4 separate regions of the Homo sapiens genome follow, and regions 2, 3 and 4 are each reported to be linked to region 1. The links are microRNA targets in miRTarBase. Many come from high-throughput screens and were not tested one by one. Region 1 holds a microRNA gene; each other region holds the end of a gene's coding sequence.
Evidence for each region. The annotated mature microRNA hsa-miR-3616-5p reads AUGAAGUGCACUCAUGAUAUGU and lies in region 1 at 2,131-2,152, opposite strand. An mRNA with a match to its seed (bases 2 to 7 or 8) in the 3' UTR can be bound and repressed. Matches are read on the target gene's strand: a 7mer-m8 pairs with bases 2 to 8, a 7mer-A1 pairs with bases 2 to 7 and ends in A, and an 8mer does both.

Region 2: miRTarBase lists HNRNPA0 as a target of hsa-miR-3616-5p. Seed matches in the 3' UTR shown: 7mer-A1 at 2,457-2,463 and 7mer-m8 at 4,023-4,029.
Region 3: miRTarBase lists BTBD19 as a target of hsa-miR-3616-5p. Seed matches in the 3' UTR shown: 8mer at 4,100-4,107.
Region 4: the mRNA of GPR137C is a reported target of hsa-miR-3616-5p. Seed matches in the 3' UTR shown: 7mer-A1 at 3,258-3,264.

Annotation. Positions count from the first base shown.
Region 1 is chr20:47,163,075-47,169,136 of GRCh38, reverse strand. MIR3616 (microRNA 3616) reads right to left here and starts at 2,170; the gene lies at 2,079-2,170. The region is part of intron 10 of EYA2 (EYA transcriptional coactivator and phosphatase 2); the gene reads right to left.
Region 2 is chr5:137,748,711-137,754,772 of GRCh38, reverse strand. HNRNPA0 (heterogeneous nuclear ribonucleoprotein A0) reads left to right here and starts at 410. Exons shown (of 1, transcript NM_006805.4): 1 at 410-6,062. The coding sequence starts at 707. The coding sequence ends at 1,624. RefSeq lists a silencer at 1-50 and enhancers at 1-369, 631-980, 1,491-1,650, 1,060-1,751.
Region 3 is chr1:44,812,671-44,818,732 of GRCh38, reverse strand. It overlaps BTBD19 (BTB domain containing 19), which reads right to left. Exons shown (of 8, transcript NM_001136537.3): 5 at 5,669-5,737; 6 at 5,464-5,595; 7 at 5,234-5,359; 8 at 3,148-5,095. The coding sequence ends at 4,961. Among named protein-coding and RNA genes, the nearest start is that of BTBD19, 7.2 kb to the right of the region's middle. RefSeq lists a silencer at 4,745-4,814.
Region 4 is chr14:52,633,325-52,639,386 of GRCh38, forward strand. It overlaps GPR137C (G protein-coupled receptor 137C), which reads left to right. Exons shown (of 7, transcript NM_001099652.2): 5 at 206-331; 6 at 504-622; 7 at 1,614-4,389. The coding sequence ends at 1,791. Among named protein-coding and RNA genes, the nearest start is that of ERO1A, 59 kb to the right of the region's middle.

The DNA.
Region 1 (6,062 bases):
ATGGAAAATTTGACAGAGAGAGAGAGAGAGAGAGAACATGCCTGGTTAATCTGATGTAGCCTTCAAGGGTTGGCCTCATAAGCTGAGGGCTGGGATGAGCACTGCACTGGGAGTCATCAGGCTCGGGTTCTAGTCTGGATTTGGATACTCAAGGTTAGAGGTCCTTGGGTTCAATCTCATCCTCTTTGTCTGTTTGGTTTCCTTATAAATGAGCAGGTTGACTGCAAGGAAAGTGACCATACAGATACTCTCCAAACAGAGAGAGTTTTGCATTAAAGGGGGATGGTATTATACTAGGGGGATAGGTTCAAACCAGGACTCCCCTAGGTCCCCAGCTTCCCAAGTATGGCCAGACATTTGGTCACCCTGGCCATATGGTGGACACCTCTGCCTCGCTAAAGGTGTTCCCCCTGCTTGAAATGCTCTCCTGCCTACATCTGCTTAGTAAACCCTGTGCTCTTCAAGTATTGGCTCCTGGAGGGACACCTGCTGTGCCTCATGATCTGTGATCATCATTTACTGAGCACTTACTATGTGCCAGGCACTATCCCCAGGGCTTGCCATTGAACAAACTCCAATGCCATGCTGTTTCCCACTCAGTTTCCTTGGGGAAACACCTCTCTCTGTGGGACAAGACCATGGGGTGGAGGCTGGGCATGGTGGCTCATGCCTGTAATCCTAGCACTGTGGGAGACAGGCGGGTGGATTGTTTGAGGTCAGGAGTTTGAGACCAGCCTGGCCAACATGATGAAACCCTGTCTCTACTAAAATACACAAATTAGCTGGGCGTGGTGGCAGCTGCCTGTAATCCCAGCTACTCGGGAGGCTGAGGCAGGAGAACTGCTTGAACCCAGCAAGTGGAGGTTGTAGTGAGCCGAGATCGCGCCACTGTGCTCCAGCCTGCATGACAGAGCAAGACTCTGTCTCAAAAAAAACAAAAAAACAAAAAAACAAAAGACTACGGGGTGGGGACAATGAAAACCAATCAGAGGGACCCAAGGTCCCCCTGGCCACAGTGATTGCTTCAAGGATGAACATGTGGTCTAAGGTGGGCCAATGGGAACCAGCCCGGGGACGTTGGCTGGCACTTTTGGAAGAGGTGCTGTCTCTTCCCTGGGGCTGCTGAATGGTGGATTAAGCCGGGAGCTGCTGAGGAAAGCAGGGCTGCGAGCTGGAGAGGGGGATGCCATGAGCATGCGATCTGATCCCCTGGATCCAGTCAGGACTGAAGCTGAGCCATCCCTGACTGTGCTGGGCCGAATAACGAACCCCCAAAGATGCGCACATTCTTATCTCGGAACCTGCAAATCTATTACTTTAAATGGCAATCAGGACTTTAGTTCAGTTAGAGATCTTGAGGTGGGAAGTTTTTCCTTGGCTGTCGGGGTGGGCCCTAAATGGAATCACATGGGTCCCTGTAAGAGAGACAGTGATCTGATGACAGAAAGGAGAGGGTGACTGGAGTCATGTGCTTTGAAGATGGAAGAAGAGACCACAGTCAACATACACAAGTGGCCACTGAAAGAAAAACTAAAACAAACAAAAAACCAAAGGGCCAGGTGTGGTGGCTTACACCTGTAATCTCAGCATTTTGGGAGGCTGAGGCGGGTGGATCACTTGAGGCCAGGAGTTTGAGACCAGCCTGGCCAACATGGAGAAACCCCACCTCTACTAAAAATACAAAAAATTAGCTGGGCATGGTGGTGCACATCTGTGGTCCCAGCTACTTGGGAGGCTGAGGCACGAGAATAGCTTGAACCTGGGAGGCAGGAGGCTGCAGTGAGCTGAGATCACACCACTGCACGCCAGCCTGGGCGACAGAGCGAGACTCTGTCTCAAAAAAAAAAAAAAAAAAAGTAAAAAAACCGATTCTCCTCTCAGAGCCTGACCTCCAGAACTGTAAGAGGACACGTGTGTGTTGTTCGAAGCCAGTAACTGGGGGAAATTTGTTACAGCAGCCCTGGCGAACAAATACACCCACTTTTCAGATTAAGTGAGTGGAGCTGGGTTTCTGGCACTTTGCAGCCAAGAGTCGTAAGGGATGCCATGTCCCATGTGGAGCCTACACGATGCACACCTGCCAACCCCGCCTGCATCATGAAATGCCCTCGTGACACGCTGATGGGGCAAACATATCATGAGTGCACTTCATGATGCTGGCGGAGTGACATGATAATATGTTGATGGGGCAAAAAATGTGCGGGGGTGCCAGCCCCTGCGGTACTGGTTCAGGGTGCAGGCTCTGGAATCTGACTGCCTGGGCCTGGATCCTGGATCCAACCGCTTCCCAGTGTGTGACCTTGAGTGAGGGGCATGACCCTCATGAACCCCAGAGGCCTGACTGATAAATGGACCTGATAACTGAACCCACCTCCAGATGAGGTGAGGAGAAGCGAGATGCTGCATGAGAGCACCGAGAACAGTGTCGGGTGCACAGTGGCTACTGCATACATGTTAGTTTCTACCACTGTGTTAAGATCTTACACATTTTCCCACAGTTTAGTTGCAAGGTGATTTCTCGAGGCAGCTGCCTCCTTACAAAGGCTGCTGGAGGAGGAGAAGCACGTGGGACTCTGAGCTTGACTACTGAGAAAAAATTGGTTGTAACATCTCTGGAACCTTGATGGGAGTAGAGAAATTGGAAGAAAGGGTATTTGCAACATTTTGAACAGATCTCTTTTTAGACAATTGGACAAGCAAAAAGCTTTTTTTTTTTTTTTTTTTTTTTTTTTTTTTTTTTTTTAGACAGTCTTGCTCTGTCACCCAAGCTGGAGTGCAGTGGCACAATCTCAGTTCACTGCCACCACCTCCCAGGTTTAGGTGATTCTCAAGCCTCAGCCTCTCGAGTAGTTGGGACTACAGGTGTGTGCCACCATGCCTAGCTAATTTTTGTATTTTGAGTAGAGATGAGGTTTTGCTATGTTGGCCAGGCTGGTCTCAAACTCCTGGCCTCAAGAGATCCTCTAGTCTTGGCCTCCCGAAGTGCTAAGATTGCAGGCATGAGCCACCGTGCCTGGCCAAAAGGCTTGAATTTATCTTTGAGAATATAAGCTTTGCAGGGGGATGGTGGGAAGCCCCTGCCTCATTCATTTTTTTTCTTTTTTTGAAAAATAGAGATAGGGTCTCAATATGTTGCCCAGGCTGGTCTTGAATTTCTGGGCTCAAGTGATCCTCCCGCTGTGGCCTCCCAAAGTGGTAGAATTACAGGCCTCCTCATTAATTTTTAAAAGATACGTAAGGTAGTCTTGTTGTTATGGTGATGTTTAGGGAGGCAAGAGAGGGGTCAGTGGCATCTGGGGCAGCCTGGGTTGCCCTGTGGGGAGCTGGGCTGGAATCTGAGAGAGGGGTTGGCAAGGGGGTAGTGTGGCTGCTGGTCCCTCTCCAGCCCCTTGAAAGGGCCTCAGATTAGAAAGGGTTTTGATGAAAGGTGAGGCTTGTTTCCAGAGTCCTTGACACACATGGGCCCAGGCACAGCAACTTTGTGGCAGGTGACAAAGTGCAACTGCCGTTCTCGCCTCTGCATAGGACCTTGCACCTCTGTGACCCACGGGCAGCACCCTGGGTTTGGACAGTGGTGTGCTCTTAAGGCCTGGAGACCAACGGCAGCAGGGAAGTACCCCCAGGTGGCTTCCTAGGGGTCAGCTCTGGGCAAATGGGAGTAAGCAGATGGCCAAGAACACAGTGGATGCTAAAGGGTGACCCTGAATGAGAAACTCACTGGGAAGTGGGGGAGTGGAAGGACACTGAGTGACCACTCTTGAGCCAGCAGACATCTGGTTACACCTAAGCTTTTACTGCTCAGTATTTCGAATTTCCTTTCTTTCCATTTACCCAGGACTCTGATTAATGCTTGGTGGTCTCAGGTATAATCTACCCCCTCTCCCCAAGAAGGAGTGATCTTTTTTGCAGTAGTCAAGCACGATGATACCCTCCACATTGAAAGAATCTAGAGCCATGTTGTCTAATATGGTAGCAATTAGTTGCCTGTGGCTAGTTATAGTTATATTGAAATTCAGTAAAGTTAAATAACATTAAAGGTTCAGTTCTTTAGTCCTACTTCAAGTGCTCAAGAGCTACATGTAGCCAGTGGTTATTGCAGTGAACGCTGCAGATATTTTATCATTGCAGAAATCTCTACTGGACAGCGCTGCTCTAGAGGGGTGAGGGAGCCAGGCCGGCAGCTTGTCTACTGTGTTGATAAGTTCAGTTAGGGAAGAGCCTGCAAACTGGCCTGGAGACATATCTACTTAGCTCATTGCATGTTTAAATTTTTTTGAAGCAATGGGCAATATGTAAACTTGGGGGATGTCCTCTCTCTTTTCTCTCTGCCTCCTCTTCCCTTTCTCTTCTTGTTCTTGTTCTCTCTCCAGATTTTCAGCTACCTCCTTCAGCCAGGGCATCCATTTACAGTTTCCCACCATCTCTACGGGGCTTGCTTCAGTTTACGTTACCTGGATCCTTGACCCCCCTAGGCATGTGAGTCTGAGACCTCTGAGCCATGGCCATATAAATGGATGGCCTAGAATGAGCAATCCTGACATGTTAAGGAAAATGGGATTTAAACGGCAACCGCTGACTTTACAGACCCAGGCGCAGAGGAAACAGCAGATAGCCCCCAGCTCACTGCTTTGCCTGAAACTGGAAAAACACCCCCTCCGCCCCCCAGGCCTTTCCTCAAGCTCTGGAGCCACTCCTGGGGTCACCCGGGCTCAGGCCTCTGGGCAGGGTTCCATGCGCTTTCCTTGATGTCAGAGGAAAGGCATTTGGGGAGGCTCTGTTTTTCTCATTTGTAAGGGGATTGTTGGGGGCGCTAAAGTGTGACAACAGTAGCAATCACATTTCGGACTTAATAAAATACCGTGACGCTCAGCTAGACGCTACCTCATACTCCACCAGCTGACCTGGATCAAGTTACCCCTTGAGCCAGCTCGGAGGGGAGCTGGACCGCGCAGAGGCCACGAGGATGGGGGAGCCTCCAGGGAAGAGAATCCCACGACCCTCAGCGCTGCCATCCCTCTCCTAGGTACGAGGGTGAGGGGACTGTAAGTCAGAGGGGAGACTTGTCCACACGAACTGCAGGGTGCTTCTGGTCTCTTCCGGGTCAAAGTATGAGTATCTTGGGGTGGGTGCTGAATGGCATCTGCTGGCAGAGACGGTGGAAGGGTTCCCGTGGCCTTGACACAGGTGAAGTGCAGTGGGGCTGAGGACCGGGACCTGGTGCAATCCCCGTCTCGAGGGATTTTTACTTTCTGACCCAGAGTAACACCTGCAAAGAGCCTTGTGTAAAAATGTCCATCATCCTGGTGAGAAACTGGAAAACACCTAAAGTTCCCTTGATGAGGTCGTAGCTAAATAAAATGTGGTATATCCATTCAGTGGAATCCTACCCAGCAGTGCAGAAAAAGGAGGTGGATTTTTTTTTTTTTTTTTTTTTTTTTGAGACAGTGTTTTGCTCTTGTTGCCCAGGCTGGAGTGTAATGGTGCAGTCTCGGCTCACTGCAACCTCTTCCTCCCAGGTTCAAGCAATTCTCCTGCCTCAGCCTTCTGAGTAGCTGGGATTACAGGCATGCACCACCACGCCCAGCTAATTTTGTATTTTTAGTAGAGACGGGGTTTCTCCATCTTGGTCAGGCCGGTCTTGAACTCCCGACCTCAGATGACCCCCCTGCCTCGGACTCCCAAAGTGCGGGGATTACAGGCGTGAGCCACGTCCCAAGCCAAGGAGGTGAATTTTTATGCTAGCACATGGAAATGGTTCCAAGACATCCTGGAGTGTGAAAAACGCAGGTTAAAGAATCATACATCCGGCTGGGCGCGGTGGCTTACATCTGTAATCCCAGCACTTTGGGAGGCCAAGGTGGGCAGATAGCTTGAGGTCAGGAGTTGGAGACCAGCCTGGCCAACATAGTGAAACCCTGTCTCTATTAAAAATACAAAAAGTTAGCCAGGCATGGTGGCATACACCTGTAATCCCAGCTACTTGGGAGGCTGAGAAAGGAGGATCGCTTGAGCCCAGGAGGTGGAGGTTACAGTGAGCTGAGATGGCGCCACTGCACTCCAGC
Region 2 (6,062 bases), not on the chromosome of region 1:
GGGGATCACGGTGATTGGCTGAACTCAGATGTCTCTCAAGGGGCTGGCGCGAACGCCACTGCGGAGTTGGGCGAGGGGATGAGTAAAGGGGAGGGGGAGAAACACTGGGAACAGCCGCGGTGCTAGGAGGAAATGAATCGCGGTGGTGCGCGGAGGGCAGGGAGGGACCCATGTCAAGGGACAGTGGGGCGCTCGGGAATGAAAGTGGGCTGGCAGAAGCGGAAGCGGGAGCGGCACAGGCCGCGGGCTTGAATAGACCGCGGAGGGCGGGGAGTCCGTGATCTAGAGCGGCGCTGCGGCGCGGTAGGCGGGATTAAGGGGAGCGAGGCGGGGATTGGCTGGTAGCCCTAGGCTGCCGTACGTCGGCGGTGACGCACGCCTCGGGGAGGGTGCGCGCGCGTTCAGCGGCCTCTTTGTGTGGTGCCCAGATAGGGGAGCGGAGGTGGCGGCGGCGGCGGTAGCGGTGGCCTTGGTTGTCTTCCAGTCTCCTCGGCTCGCCCTTTAGCCGGCACCGCTCCCCTTCCCTCCCCCTTCCTCTCTTCCTTCCTTCCCTCCCCTTCCCTTTTTCCCTTCCCCGTCGGTGAGCGGCGGGGGTGGCTCCAGCAACGGCTGGGCCCAAGCTGTGTAGAGGCCTTAACCAACGATAACGGCGGCGACGGCGAAACCTCGGAGCTCGCAGGGCGGGGGCAAGGCCCGGGCCTTGGAGATGGAGAATTCTCAGTTGTGTAAGCTGTTCATCGGCGGCCTCAATGTGCAGACGAGTGAGTCGGGCCTGCGCGGCCACTTTGAGGCCTTTGGGACTCTGACGGACTGCGTGGTGGTGGTGAATCCCCAGACCAAGCGCTCCCGTTGCTTTGGCTTCGTGACCTACTCCAATGTGGAGGAGGCGGACGCCGCCATGGCCGCCTCGCCCCATGCCGTGGACGGCAACACTGTGGAGCTGAAGCGGGCGGTGTCCCGGGAGGATTCGGCGCGGCCCGGTGCCCACGCCAAGGTTAAGAAGCTCTTTGTCGGAGGCCTTAAAGGAGACGTGGCTGAGGGCGACCTGATCGAGCACTTCTCGCAGTTTGGCACCGTGGAAAAGGCCGAGATTATTGCCGACAAGCAGTCCGGCAAGAAGCGTGGATTCGGCTTCGTGTATTTCCAGAATCACGACGCGGCAGACAAGGCCGCGGTGGTCAAGTTCCATCCGATTCAGGGCCATCGCGTGGAGGTGAAGAAAGCAGTCCCCAAGGAGGATATCTACTCCGGTGGGGGTGGAGGCGGCTCCCGATCCTCCCGGGGCGGCCGAGGCGGCCGGGGGCGCGGCGGTGGTCGAGACCAGAACGGCCTTTCCAAGGGCGGCGGCGGCGGTTACAACAGCTACGGTGGTTACGGCGGCGGCGGAGGCGGCGGCTACAATGCCTACGGAGGCGGCGGCGGCGGTTCGTCCTACGGTGGGAGCGACTACGGTAACGGCTTCGGCGGCTTCGGCAGCTACAGCCAGCATCAGTCCTCCTATGGGCCCATGAAGAGCGGCGGCGGCGGCGGCGGTGGAGGCAGTAGCTGGGGCGGTCGCAGTAATAGTGGACCTTACAGAGGCGGCTATGGCGGTGGGGGTGGCTATGGAGGCAGCTCCTTCTAAAAGAAAATTTAAAATGCCTGGGAGTGGCTATAGGGGTAGCTCTTTCCAACAGCCCAAGTGGGGTCAACTCCTAAGCCCCACCCCCTCACACACACCGCCTTCCCTGTTTTGCCCTTGGGGGAGCCACTTCTAAGGCTGCTTACCCTTGGGGGTGTTCCTCTATTTGCCTGCCACCTCTCTTGTCTCTCCCTCTGAAGATGGACTCGGCCCCACATACACATTTTTGTGTTACAGTCATTGATGGACTCTATTTTTTTATTATTACTTGGACCTTGGTCGTTTTTATACTAGCAAAATGTCTTGTTTTAATTTGTGTTTTTTGGGGGGAGGGAGGGAGTGAACTTGCTGATTCTGTAGCAAAACCTGGGTGGGGGTTGGGGTGGGGGGTAGTTTACTTTGTTGTAAGGACTTGATAACCTGGCTACAGCGTTTTCTATGAAATCTACTTGGATCCCATGCCTGAAATTTGGAAGCATATGTACAAAAATCATTTTTACGTTTTATTTTTAATAAATCATTGTGTTTGACCGTACATGTCTAACATTTTTTTTCTAGGATCCATTCCGTACCGTTTTTTAAGGGATATTTGTTTAAGACTTTACGTGTTAATTCTTTATTCTTGATGTGTACTTAGAGAAACTTAAGAGGTCCTGTGGTTTTTTTCCCCTCTCCTGTTGCCCTGCTAGTTGCGTGTTGAATTATATCCCTTACAGGCAAAACTTTTGAAGTGGTGGATGTGGCTTTTTAAACTCTTAAGTTTCTGTGCATCCATCTCTTGTACTAAGCGAATTGTTTATCATCTTGACATGGTTGGTCATTTCTATGACAATTTACTTCAAACTGTGTACTGTGTAGTTCTATATAGTTTGTGTTAAGCATGTCATTCATATAAACTGTTTAAAATTTTTCAGATGGCCTAGTTTCATCCCTCTTACTGGTTTGTCTGTAATGAATGGTTAAAAATAAGGGTTATATTTTACCCTCAAATGCGTTTTTGTACTTTCAGAGCAGGTTTAAACGTTTTTTTTTTTTTTTTCCTATATCCGAACTGTTGGCCTCATGGAAATCCCTTTCCCGATCTTTGTAGCACCATCTACTGGCAGAATGGCAGAGTAGCTGCGAAACAATTTGTTTAAAAACTTGCTTAAGACAATTGCATCAGATTTGGAAGTTTTGCCATCAAAATTCTTTGCAGAATTGGAAGTTAACACATTTGCTTGTAACTGAGATGGGCTTCACAGGAATGTAGTTGCCAGTTCATATCACAATAGCCCTTTCTATATGAGGTTTGAAAATGTAAACTGCTATGCATAGCTTGGGCAATAGCCCTAAATTGCTATGACAACTAATGAACCAGCTACGTATACTGGTATTTTAGGTGCAAGTTGTAAAGCAAAATATCTGTGTATTCTGCTTGGTTAACAAATGTATATTTGTAGCCCTTTCCTGCAATAGCATTCAAGTTGTTGTTTATAAGAGAAGAACAAAAGTGATAATAGGTGAAAATTGCCTTTCTGGATAGAAATAGAGAATAGCAACGTTTATGGATATCACAAATAAAGAATTCAATTCTTTACATGATTGAGTGAGAGTATGTATAACCTGGTGGGTGGGTTCAGAGTACCTTTTAATCTAGTATGCTTAACTTGATGTTAATATTTAACTTAAATATTTGACTTACATGTTGACGTTGAAGGCTCAAAGCTATACTAAGAAGCTTTCTGAAAGATTGGGCTTTAAAATAAAATAATATTTTAATATTGAACCATTTTTTAACTTCTTGTCACTGTTCAATTCCTAAGGTCTAGTTCTTGCCAGTTTTTTTTTTTTTTTTCCTGATTGGCAGGGCTTTTAAAGAAGTAAGAAGAAAGGTTAAGATTATTAGGCTAGGTTATAGCTGCTCAGTAGTCATTTTGACAAAGGGTAGCGGATGGTTGGTACAAATAGTGTTATATCCTCTATGACAAACGGGGTGGATGTTTTTACACATTGAGGTAATACATAGTCAAATCCTTTGCTCTCAAATAGTTGTACACTTTCCATACATTTCTGTCTTATTTTTTAATTCTAGTGATACACAAATTACATGTGGGCTACTTCATTTGGTAATTTGGTCCAGCTTTTTGGTGGCTGTAGAGTGGCCTCTAGGATACAGAAAATGATTCTCTGAAATTTTTCGTTGTAATTGTTAAATACTACTCTGCTTGACTTACTCAGTTTTGGTGGGAAGATCTGGGTCAATTGGAATAGTACACCTTTCTCAGGGTTTTCAGTTTAATAAGGTTGTCATATTATTCCCAACATGGGAATATAGTGGCTTCTAAAGTTTGCAAATGAATTATGTAAAAGGATTTTCTGTGTATTAGGAAGGCAACCTGTTCTGTTCATGGTATATTAACACTTCATTGTCATGTGTCTACCCTTAAAATTGCTATTTGTAGTGAAGAAAAAAGCATAGTGGTATTTAGTCACTTCTGGGTTCCTCTTGTCAGTTTATATGCAAACATTTTGGCATGTGGGACTTGGGGAGGAGGGACAATTGGTTGTATGTTTTGACCACTTCCACCTATGAAAATTATCTGAACATTATTCAGATTTAAGAGTTCATGGGAGCAGGTGGTACAGAACCTAGTGTTGAATATAATTTTTGTGCCATGCTTGAATGTATTTTGACGGATTAGCAAAATAAAAGTGAACCTCCTATTTTTCATCTTAATGTGAAGATCTTTGGCATTTACATTCTTTTAAAAGTATAAATTCAGTAGTCATTAGTTGAAAGTGGTTTGAAAGGCTGTTAGAGATGATACAGGTTGAGTATTCCTTATCTGAAATTCTTGGGCCCAGAAGTGTTTTGAGTTTTAGATTTTTTTCAATTTTTGAATATTTCCATTATGTTTACCAGCTGAGCAGCTCTCATACAAAAATGTAAAATCCAAACTGCTTCAATGAGCATTTCCTTTGAATGTCATGTCTGCACTCAAAAAATTTCGGATTTTGGAGCATTTTAGATTTTTTGATTGGAATATCTGTAGTGTTTTTCAGGTCATTTAAAAAGCTCTCATTGGTACTGATTTACTGTATCCAAAAAAAAGCCTGCAAGTGGTTAAGGTTCACAGTGATAACTATCAAATCAGAATGACTATACTGATTGTACCCATTCATCCATTTTTAACTTAGTGATTTGGAACGTTTCATATTCAAATCTAATTTTCATAATTTTTAAGTAAACCTAAAAGATTGAGGATACTTGAGAAATTTGCATTTATGATTTCCTTCAAAACCAGAAGTGATGGTATCAGTTATTGGATTTGTAAACTTAGTTTACCTTTTAAGTGTGCTTAAGTTTTGAGAGTTTGCATTTTAGGTTAAATTTTGTCTGCCCGCGTCTGCTGATTGCAGATAGGCATTTGGATGTTGGATTTGGAGCAGAACTGCATCTAGACTACACGGATTTTACCCAAAAAGACAGCACTTGCACTTAGGCTAAGTGTCTTTCTCCATCGTAACCAATTTATTGAATCACTTTAAGAGTGATCATTGGGGAAATTTTCCTCCTCAGCCTTATTTTGGCCTTTTGAAACAGCAACAAAGACTGCCTAGTCAAATAACTCCTTAGCTGTCCTGCTTTTGAGTGAACTTCATATTTGCCTTGAATGAGAATTTAAATGTTACAAGGTAAAACATTTATTATAAAAAGATATTTGAAAGCTGCTATTTAAAAAGGAATTCCAAAGTAGGAAGACTAGAAGGGCAATTCTCTATTTTCCACCTATTTTTTTTACTTTGATTTGAAGCCAGATGATTTGAACCTTCAGAGAGGGAAAGGATTCAGGAAGACACCTTTGGTAGTTATTCTTAACTGTTTCCTTCTCTATTCAGGCAGGCTTTCTTTGTCTCTTTAATTCTTTTACCACTTTGTATGGTTTACTTAAAAAATCTATCTGAAATAGCTATCATTTCCTGCTATAAAGTTCTCAAGTGTAAACTTTTGCCATTTAAACAGTGTGCTTATTTCCCAGTGTTTACCGTCAATTTCATTGGGTGTTAGGCACCTTTGTGTAAGACAGTTCTATAATGTGGAGGTACACAGCAGTGAGACAAACATGGTTGCTGTCTTCATATACCTTGCGTTCTGGTTGGAATTCAATTTATTTTGAAATGGGAATTCAATTTATTTTGAGATGATGCATCTTTTCCTTTACAGCATTGTGTCACAATCTCATATTGTTCACACCATCAAAATTGGAGTTAGCTCCATTGTCATTGAATGTACATTCTCTGATGAAAATTAAGACTCTTTTCTCCTTAATTGATTACTTTTTAGAAATCAAAGGTGTATTTTGTCTTTGATGCTTACGTTGCAAATGTAATTTGCTTCATAGTGGGTATCTGATTTAATATTTCATAGCCCTTAAGGACGTAAATTTGGGCATCCAAT
Region 3 (6,062 bases), not on the chromosome of region 1:
ATTACAGGCGCACCACCACGCCCGGCTAATTTTTGTGTTTTTAGTAGAGACAGAGTTTCACCATGTTGGCCAGGCTGGTCTCAAACTCCTGACCCCAGGTAATCCGCCTGCCTCGGCCTTCCAAAGTGTTGGGATTACAGGCAAAAGCCAACGTGCCCGGCCCCTATGGAGCTTTTCTAATAGAACCAAACACAAAACAAATTGAATAAATAATATAAATCCCAGATAAATAATATCTCAGTGAGAAGTGCCCTGTAGAAAGAGCATTTTGATAGAATGGTCTACCTCCTTCCTATTCCCTCTCCATAAGGGAGCTCACCTACTTCCATGGCTTTAAGTAAATGCCATCTGATAGCTAGTGACCCCCCAGTTTACAGCCATCAGCTAGTCCTGTTGACTCCCTTCCATCAGCTGGTCCTGTTGATACCTTCAAAGCGTACGCTTCATCCAACCACATTTTACCACCTCCACTGCTGCCATCCTGGTCCAAGATCTCTTGCTGGATAATTGCAATAGCCCCTAACTGTTCTCCCTAGACCACTCTTCTACCTCGCTCTTGCCCTTCTCAATTCCAGTCCTCCACATAACGGCCAAATTCTTTTTTTTTTTTTTCTGAGAGGGTCTTCCTGGAGTGCAGTGGCTGGAGTGCAGTGGCACAATCTCAGGCTGGAGTGCAGTGGCGCAATCTGAGTTCACTGCAACCTCCACCTCCCAGATCCAAGCAATTCTCCCACCTCAGCCTCCCAAGTAGCTGGGACTGCAGGCGCGTGCCACCACACTGGCTAATTTTTGTATTTTTTGTAGAGACGGGATTTCGCCATGTTGCCCGAACTGGTATCAAACTCCCAGATTCAAGTGATTCGCCCACCTCACCCTCCCAAAGTGCTGGGATTACAGGCAGGAACCACCATGCCCAGCCCAAATTATTCTTTTAAACTAAATCTGATCACACATCACTGTCCTGCACAAAACCCTCCAATGCCTTCCCCCATGACACATAGCTCCCTGCAGATCTCTTGTCAAATGTTATCTCATCAGAGGTCTACAATCAGTGCCCTGTACGAAATAGTCCCACTCCCACCACATAGCTATCTCTTCAACCTGTTTTGCTTTTCCTCATAGCACAAACTACTCCCTGAATAGAGCATACATTTCTTTACTTGTTTACTGCATGTTTCTCCTCTTAGAATGTTAGCTCCATGAGGCAAAGACTTGACTTGACTTGTTGTCTGATGTACTTATTCCATGACCGTAAATCAATGTCTAGTGTGTGAGCACTCAATGAATAGTTGTGGAACAAATGAATGAATATGTTTTCTAAACACATATACAGAATTTAATCTGTCCCACTACAATTCTAAGTATTTTATGAAATTATTTTCATCTTCCTAAAAACTCTACTAAATAGGTTCCATTATCTCCATTTTATAAATAAGGAAGCTGAGGCAAAGAAAGGTTAATCACAAAGAAAATATGTGGCGGAGCTGGGATTCAAATGCAAGCATTCTGGCTCCAGGAGACACGCTCTTAATCACTATGCTACCTTTTTTCTTTTAACAAGAGGAATCATGCTGTAATTGGTCTATTCTGTGCTTTTTTCACCAAAGATCATGGATTTTTTAAATATTACAGGAATATACCATAGTTAATATAACCAGTCCTCTGGTAATGGACGTATAGATGATTTTCAATTTCCACTATCCAATCAATGCTGCCATGTACTACTGAGTAAGCACATTTTCTGTCGAGAGATAATGCTAAATAACTATCTTTAATCCCTGTGCAATATATATACACACACATCTATGTGTATATATAATATACACACACATCTATGTGTATATATAATATACACACACATCTATGTGTATATATAATATACACACACATCTATGTGTATATATAATATACACACACATCTATGTGTATATATAATATACACACACATCTATGTGTATATATAATATACACACACATCTATGTGTATATATAATATACACACACATCTATGTGTATATATAATATACACACACATCTATGTGTATATATAATATACACACACATCTATGTGTATATATAATATACACACACATCTATGTGTATATATAATATACACACACATCTATGTGTATATATATACACACACATCTATGTGTATATATAATATATACACACATCTATGTGTATATATAATATACACACATCTATGTGTATATATAATATACTCACATCTATGTGTATATATAATATACACACACATCTATGTGTATATATAATATACACACACATCTATGTGTATATATAATATACACACACATCTATGTGTATATATAATATACACACACATCTATGTGTGTGTGTGTGTGTGTGTGTGTATATATATATATACATATATATATATATATTTTTTTTTTTTTTTTTGAGACAGAGTCTCACTCTGTTGCCTAGGCTGAGTGCAGTAGCACAATCTCAGCTCACTGCAACCTCCGCCTCCCAGATTCAAGCAATTCTCGTGCCTCAGCCTCCCAAGTAGCTGGGATTACGGGCATGTGCCACCACACCTGGCTAGTTTTTTGTATTTTAGAGACAGGGTTTTGCCATGTTGCCCAGGCTGATCCCGAACTCCTGAGCTCAGGCGAACCACCCACCTCGGCCTCGCAAAGTTCTAGGATTACAGGCGTGAGCCACGGTGCCTGGCCTCCTGTACAATATATTTTTGTATGAAGTCCCTGAGATAGAAATCTAACTTTATTTTCTTCTAAATAGTCAACTGTCTCTCATTTTAGATTGACAGTATCTTGCTTTGCAGCTCCTTTAAAACTCTTCATGGAATAAAGTGGCATTTAAATGAGGAAATAGGCTGGGTGTGGTGGTGCTTCATGCCTGTAATCCCAGCACTTTGGGAGGACGGAGTGGGACCATTGCTTGAGCCCAGGAGTTTGAGAACAGCCCGGGCAACGTAGGGAGACCTCATCTCTACAAAAAGAAAAAAAAAAGTTAGCCGAATGTGATGGAACATGCCTGTAGTCCCAGCTATTCAGCAGGCTGAAGTGGGAAGATCACTTGAGCCTGGGAGGCTGAGGCTGCAGTGAGCCGAGATTGCACCACTGCACTCCAGCCTGGGTGAGAATAAGGTTGTGTCATAAATAAATAAATAAAGTCATTTACTTAACATTTACATAGCACTGATTATCTGACAGAGACTGAGGAAGCAGAAACGAGTAAGACACCACTCCAGGCCCCAGGGATCTTTCTTGAGGGAGATTCACATCCTCGGGAAAACAAGATGTATAGTGAATGAAGGAGGTAGCAGAGGGGTCTGCAGTAACTGAGTAAGGTATGGAGCTAGAGGACTAATACCTCCAGGATAAATGAATTTATACAAAGATTGTATTTGAGAGAAGAGGTGAGGAACCACTCACTAGTAGTTTTGAGTGCCCTGAAAGTGAAATAGATTGAATTTTGTCCTGGAGGTCAATGGGATGTTCCAGGACTTAAGCCCCATAGGACTGACAATCAAAAACAGGTCTGGCTGCACTGTGGGAAATGGATTGAGGGGGCGCTGGAGTGAAGGCAGGAAGGCTGTGAGACGTGTCAGACAGGACAGGTTGAACCTGGGGCTGAGAGAACTGAACCAACTGGAAAGGTCTCTTAAGGTCTCTTACAAGGTAAAAAGAGACCTAAGGCAGGTGTGAAGAGCGATAAGGCAAGGATGAGATCCAGGTTTCTGGCGTGGGTGTCCACGGAAATGAGAAACACGATGGGGGCAGAGCTGGGGAAAAGCTGGGGAGATCAATTTCTCGCCGAGCCTGTGGTGTCTGAGGGGCATTCAGGGAGCGATCTCCAGGGGGGCAGGTCTGGAATGAAAGAAGGAGCTGAGGCCGGGCATGGTGGCGCACACCTGTAATCCCAGCACTTTGGGAGGCCGAGGCTGGCGGATCACATGAAGTCAGGAGTTCGAGACCAACCTGGCCAACATGGTGAAACCCCCGTCTCTACTAAAAATACAACAATTAGCCGGGCGTTGTGGTGCATGTCTGTAATCCCAGCTACTCAGGAGGCTGAGGCACGAGAATCGCTTGAACCCGGGAGGCGGAGTTTGAAGTGAGCCGAAATCGCACCACTACACTCCAGCCTCGACGACAGAGCAAGACTCTGTCTCAAAAAAAAAAAAAAAAAGGCCGAGGCGGGCGGATCACAAGGTCAGGAGATCGAGACCATCCTGGCTAATACGGTGAAACTCCGTCTCTACTAAAAATTCAAAAAAATTAGCCGGGCGTGGTGATGGGCGCCTGTAGTACCAGCTACTCCGGAGGCTGAGGCAGGAGAACGGCGTGAACCCGGGAGGCGGAGCTTGCAGTGAGCCGAGATGGCACCACTGCCCTCCGGCCTGGGCGAGAGTGCGAGACTCCGTCTCAAAAAAAAGAGAGAGGAGAGAAAGAAAGAAAGAAAGAAAGAGATAGAGAAAGAGAAAGAAAGAAGGAAGGAAGGAAGGAAGGAAGGAAAGAGAAAGAAAGAAAAAGAAAGAAAGAAAGAAAGAAAGAAAGAAAGAAAGAAAGAAAGAAAGAAAGAAAGAAAGAAAGAGAAAGAAAAAGAAAAGAAAGAGGGAGCTGAGCTGAACAGATAGATATGTGGGAGTCATCAGAATAGACTAGTAGACGACAATGCCCAGGGGCAGGGCGTAGAGTCAGGGTGTGGAACGAAGGAAATCCTCGTTTTCGAGTTTCACCCCCTCAGGGAGGCCCAGCCCAAGCCCTGCCCGGCCCGACCCCACCTCGCCCACACGGGCTTGATCCCGCACAAGGGGCTGCGCGTGGCAGACAACGGTTCTTCCGGCGCCCGGCTCACTGGGCACGCTGGGAACGGAAGCCCGCTCCGAACGCCGAGCACTTCGGGAGCTGTAGTTTGGGGCAGGCTCAGCTGGGCGGGTCGAGGGCTCCCTGCGAGTCCCGGCGTTGGATCATTTGAAGGACAGGTCCAGAAAGCGGTGATGCTCCCGGGGCAGGGTGCCTCTCCGGCGGCGACACGGGGCGCCCCGGGCCTCATCCCCTCTCCGCAGGGCATGGCATTTCCACGCCTCCACAATCTGCTCCACCTGCAGAGCAAGGCCAGTTAGTGCGCAGTCCCGCGGTGGCCCCTCGCCCCGAGGACCGTGGGCCGGGCTGCTCCTGCCCCCTCCCAGCGCCCTGTACCCCCTGCTGAGTGGAGCTGGGCCGGTTCCCCGCGTCCCCACCGGGATGAGTGGTTCCTGCCGGTTCTGCTCTTCCAGGGCGCTCAGCTCCGCCGGGGCCAGCAAGGCTAGTCTCAGCTCTTTCACCACCGGGGCCGCCACCTCAGCCACCGGCCGCTCCAGCACCGCCTGCAAACGCCAGCCCTGAGTCGGGCACCTGTCCTGCCGCCCGCTCACCAGTCTCGTGGCCAGCACCTCCTTCCGTGCCCTTGCGCTCCCCCAGCCCCACTCACCGCGCCCACGCGCGCCCAGCTTCGGGCCGCGCGGACCAGTTCAGCCTCGTCCACGCAGAGCTTGTCGCTGCGGAGCAGGGGCAGCAGCGCGGCCGCCGACAGCTCCAGGAAGCCTCGGGTCCGGAGGGCCTCCTGCGAGCCGGCAAATGGGTCAGGGAGGAGCAGAATGCGGTGCGTAGGGTGAGGAGTATGAAGGGAGCAGTACCTGGCTGTGGGCCTCTATGAAAGCCACGCAGCGCTCCTGCAGCTGCCCCAGGCCAAAGGTTACGGCCACCTGCGAGCAGAATGAGGGAGATCAGGTTGGAGACTGGAGAGGCCGTAGCCCAGCCTGCTCACTGGGACCCACCACTGCAAGCCTGACCCTAGCCCTAGCTGGGGAGGCTGACAGGGCCCTCAGCCCTCCAGGAAACTAGACCCAATGAAAGCCTGCTACACACACACACACACACACACACACACACACACACACACACACACACACACGTGGACTCACTCTACAACCTGCTCTTCCCTACAGGAGACCACGCCATGGCCTTCAAACCCCACCTGGGACCTAGGCTTGATTTTTTTTGAGGCAGAGTCTCACTCTGTTGCCCAGG
Region 4 (6,062 bases), not on the chromosome of region 1:
TTATTTTTTGTAGCTTCAAAGCATTTTATGTCCTTTAAAGGATAAGTGTCATTTCATGAGAAACCACAAAATATAGAAAGTTTTAGAGTTTATGTGCTTGTAGTTGATATATTTTATCTTACCTGACTTGAAACAAGTTAACTGTGGAGGTGATTGCTTATACAATAAACAGATGTAAAAATTCTCTGCCATGCTCTATTTACAGGCTCATGTAGAAGACATAAGTGGAGAAGAGTATATAGTATTTGGAATGGTCCTCTTTCTGTGGGAACATGTGCCAGCATGGTCGGTGGTACTGTTTTTCCGGGCACAGAGATTAAACCAGAATTTGGTATGATATAATATTCCCCAATGCCTGTTCTCCTATTTTTAAAAATTATGGAACATTTATATTGATTTTCTATTTTTGGCAAAGGTTAAGACTAAAAATTATTATAGATTCTAGCCTCCTTTCTTAGTGGAAAAGTAAAACCTTCATATGCTATCTAATACTTTGTTCACAGGCACCTGCTGGCATGATAAATAGTCACAGTTATAGTTCCAGAGCTTACTTTTTCGACAATCCAAGACGATATGATAGTGATGATGACCTGCCAAGACTGGGAAGTTCAAGAGAAGGAAGGTAGATGTAACAAAGCCACTTAGCCTGAATTACTATTGAAATTGATTGAAAAAAACAAATCTAAGCTTTAACCAAAATATGAAAAAAGGTGATTTAGTGGTAATATGTCAATAAATAAGATCGGCAATACTGGAGTTTAAAGCAGTAGATGTTAAACCCAGGGTGGGACCTGCATTATCAGGAACTACCATTTGACTCAAAGCCTATATGCCTTTTGGCTAAAATGGTACCATTTCATTTCGGGATCACTTGTTGGTTCAGAGCTGTTTGTGGGAGGGGGATGCACAAGGAAGAAATACTATTATAGTGATTATATGTCTGTTTCCATATCTTTAGTGCTGGTCAAAATCCAGAGAAACCCTAGATAAAACTCTTGGGAAGCTTAATTGCCATAGGAAATGTTCCCATGCCCTCCTTGTTACAAAACCATTTCAAGTCCGTAACTAGTACACTATTGACTGTGATTCGGGCAAAGAGGAAAGCTTAATGGCTGAAGCCATGAAGCATAATGGCTTCAGCTTGATATGACATTTTCTGTAATCCTAACTTCATCTGGGCAAGTTATATAACCTCAGTTTTTTGAACCTGCTTTTCATCTGTAAGACAGGGATAATAGAACCTATTTCAGAGGTTTGTTGTGAGAAATGAATGTATATGTGTGTCTGCATACATACATACATACATACATAGATGTCTTAGAATAGAGCTGAGTACATAAGGACTACATTGTTGTCATCTGACAATCAAGTTCTACCAGTTCTGAGTGGCATTTATTCATTCTTTTGTAACATACTGCGATATAGAATCCAGGATATTAGATAAAAGTCATTAAATTTGTAGAAAAGCATTTTGTTATTTGACAAAGAACATATTTCAATGTATTTGAGTGCTAACTTTATTACAAAATTCATTGAAAATGCTAAAAATTCAAATGTGACTTCTTATATCCTGATCATAGTCCTATGGTCTTTTTGCCTTTTTTTTGTTGCAGTTTACCAAATTCGCAAAGTTTGGGCTGGTATGGCACCATGACTGGGTGTGGCAGCAGCAGTTACACAGTCACTCCCCACCTGAATGGACCTATGACAGATACTGCTCCTTTGCTCTTTACTTGTAGTAATTTAGATTTGAACAATCATCATAGCTTATATGTGACACCACAAAACTGACAGCATCACCAAGTCATGATTCTTGAGTTGTTTTTCATAAATGTGTATATTCAATGTGTTTAAATTCCATCTACATAAACATTCCATTATCTGTTGCAACTGAAAACAAAATCTGGAAGTGTGGCTGTGTTTGGTAAATAACACAGCTATTATTTTTGACCTCTTCATAGTAAAATGAAGTAAAATGGAAAGTTTGGAGTAGGAGAAAAGAGAGATTAGATCTTAAGGCACTTGATGGCCTCCAAAAATCCTGACTTTGGAACATCAAATGCATATGTGCACTTTTATCTTTGTTCTGAGTCACTGCAGTCCCCAAAGTCATATGCCAATGTTCACACTGAAATACTGTATTGTACACCAAACTGGAAGGCAATTTTCCTATGAAAATCAAAGCCGGTATATTCATTGGTATGCTCTATACAGATATCTTAATAAAAATTTTATAGTGTGAACAGTGCACAGAGTTAAGGCATAAAAATGTATCATTCTTTATAAAAATCTACTGAAAATGTGTAATCATTGAAGACAGTTCTTTTAAGCATGATTTTAAAATAGCAACTGAAATTCAATCATTTTAAACAAATGATGGTAGTAATCCATTAGTTATGGCCAGCAGTGTTCTTTGGAGAGCCACAATAATTTCAAGAGGAAAATATACCAGTGAAAATTGTGTGGCTATTTTGAGTAGAATTGGTCAGTTGATTATTTTGTGTAATTGAGATATATGTAGTAGTTTAAGCATGATTCTTGAAGAAAGCAATAGTGACTTTTGCATAGGGAGATTTTGGTAGAAACTTCTTGGGACTAAACAAGTTTAGAGATGCATTTAAGAATTATTCACAAAATGTGTAATTCTAAATTAAAACATAAATATATTTTCAAAAGCATTTGATTTCTCTGAAGCATGATATAGCTGGTCTTACCTAGTGAATCAGGATTGTCCTCAGGTAAATGAAATCATGATACATTATTGCAGTGAACTCAAGTGCAATACTTTGTAAGACATATAATTCCTATGATTTTCACATTTTTATATCTTATATATGGGAAAAGCCAAATTAAATTGAATTCAGATTAATTCCAGCATTAGACTAAATGAGCAAACTTAAGTAAATGTACAAACTAGGTAAGTATAAAACCACAGGTTAACAATATTGGAGTACTTTTAGAATTACATTAAAACTGTCTTAAATGTCCTATCCCAAATCTAAAAAAAAAGAAAATGGCAGGCTGAGATAATACAGAATTTTAAAATGCACTTTGTACCAGTGTCTATATGGAAAGAAGTAGATGCTGAATACCTCAAGATGCCAAGGGAACAAGCAACATTGGGAAGTTGTCACAACATGCTCAAAGACAAACTACAATTGTCTGCTAGCTATTTCTTCAGAACTGGAACTAATACGACTATCCTTTTCTGTTTTATACTTTGATTAGAATGTTATTTCCTCGCTTACTTAAAATGTACTTCAACTTTTTAACAACTGATACAATAACTTCATAAAAGTATAACACTAGGTTGAAACCTTAAGGAAAAATTGAAATTGTTAATGCTTTCGATCTTTTGGGAGGCCAGTACACAGACAAATAAATTTCTTCTTTTTATGATACAAAATGACTTTGTATTCAATCAGAAGCATATACTTATGTTATTTTGGGTTTGTTTATAATTCTCTCATTGTAACCAAATTATTTTAAAATGTATAGTATAAAAAGTTACCCGTGGTATTAAGTGACAAAAGCGTACTTTTATTACAACTCCAGTTGTTAGATTGCTTCTCAGAATGCTAACTGTTTATTTTGCTAATAATGTTAGGCATCTAATCATCTAGAGCTGTCCAAAAAGATATGTTGTCTTTGTTAATCCTTGGGGTTCAAGGTGATAAAGTTTTTCTAGTAAGGCTCCCCTCGATAATGTTCCTATTTGACCAAACTAACAAAGATTACTTTTTAAAAATTTTTCAGATAAAATAACTTGGTTCTTTCTGCTGCATTAGTTGATTGTTCCAAATTTGAGGTTTGTAAGTTTATTCTTATCACTGACTAGGGTACCCAAATTCTTGCATTTGTCTCCTTATACACATCTAACATATCACCAAAGACAAATAAAGATACACTCTGGCCCAATCTTTGCTTAAAAATTCCAAAGCACTAGGAGCACTTTAAGTTTGGTCTCGAAAGGAGTTGTTTATAAAATCAAAGGGCTACCGATTCCCTGTTCATCCTGCACTGAAGCACATGATGACAGTATCAAACCTTCATTTTTGTTCATTAAAAAGTGAATTTCATTACTTAAGTGTGTAATTCTATAGTGATTAGCAGTATTTGTTTTCATCATTTCACTTGGGTGGCCATTAATTTTGAAACCTTTACCACTCATTGTAGTTGGTTGTAGTTTTATGGAAAATGTAATTTATAGCTAAAGTGGCTTTTTTATGCATAGCTGCCTTTTTTATTGTTTAACAGTGTTTCTCAGCTATATAATCAGTTTCAAACTGGTTGTAAAAGTATAGCTGTGGCCAATGAATGTATTTATTTGTTGTTTCACTAAATTGTAACAAAACACTACTATTAAAAATAAAAGTGTTTGTGCTTTTATTTAGAGTTCTGGTTTTCTTCATCTCTTATAATGGACTATACTGAGTTTCTATCATATAAGAATAAGAACATAGTGCTACCACAAAAAAAAAAAAAATCAGGAGTTACAAATGATAGTTCGCCTTTAGTGATCTCATAATTACTTACATCTGGATGTCATATTGCTCCACATACACCAGTTTGACATGAAGTGCCATGCAGTTTAAAATGCCAATACGTTATTAGATAGTACAACATTTTTATTTTTATTTTTTAAGGGTTTTTTTTTAATACTTTAAGTTTTAGGGTACATGTGCACAATGTGCAGGTTAGTTACATATGTATACATGTGCCATGCTGGTGTGCTGCACCCATTAACTCATCATTTAGCATTAGGTATATCTCCTAAAGCTATCCCTCCCCCCTCCCCCCACCCCACAACAGTCCCCAGAGTGTGATGTTCCCCTTCCTGTGTCCATGTGTTCTCATTGTTCAATTCCCACCTATGAGTGAGAACATGCAGTGTTTGGTTTTTTGTTCTTGCGATAGTTTACTGAGAATGATTATTTCCAATTTCATCCATGTCCCTACAAAGGACATGAACTCATCATTTTTTATGGCTGCATAGTATTCCATGGTGTATATGTGCCACATTTTCTTAATCCAGTCTATCATTGTTGGACATTTGGGTTGCTTCCAAGTCTTTGCTATTGTGGATAGTGCCGCATTAAATGTACGTGTGCATGTGTCTTTATAGCAGCATGATTTATAGTCCTTTGGGTATATACCCAGTAATGGGATGGCTGGGTCAAATGGTATTTCTAGTTCTAGATCCCTGAGGAATCGCCACACTGACTTCCACAATGGTTGAACTAGTTTACAGTCCCACCAACAGTGTAAAAGTGTTCCTATTTCTCCACATCCTCTCCAGCACCTGTTGTTTCCTGACTTTTTAATGATTGCCATTCTAACTGGTGTGAGATGGTGTCTCATTGTGGTTTTGATTTGCATTTCTCTGATGGCCAGTGATGGTGAGCATTTTTTCATGTGTTTTTTGGCTGCATAAATGTCTTCTTTTGAGAAGTGTCTGTTCATGTCCTTCACCCACTTTTTGATGGGGTTGTTTGTTTTTTTCTTGTAAATTTGTTTGAGTTCATTGTAGATTCTGGATATTAGCCTTTGTCAGATGAGTAGGTTGCGAAAATTTTCTCCCATTTTGTAGGTTGCCTGTTCACTCTGATGGTAGTTTCTTTTGCTGTGCAGAAGCTCTTTAGTTTAATTAGATCCCATTTGTCAATTTTGGCTTTTGTTGCCATTGCTTTTGGTGTTTTAGACATGAAGTCCTTGCCCATGCCTATGTCCTGAATGGTAATGCCTAGGTTTTCTTCTAGGGTTTTTATGGTTTTGGGTCTAACGTTTAAGTCTTTAATCCATCTTGAATTAATTTTTGTATAAGGTGTAAGGAAGGGAGCCATTTTCAGCTTTCTACATATGGCTAGCCAGTTTTCCCAGCACCATTTATTAAATAGGGAATCCTTTTCCCATTGCTTGTTTTTCTCAGGTTTGTCAAAGATCAGATAGTTGTAGATATGCGGCGTTATTTCTGAGGGCTCTGTTCTGTTCCATTGATCTATATCTCTGGACCTCTTCAAGGAGAACTACAAACCACTGCTCAATGAAATAAAAGAGGATCC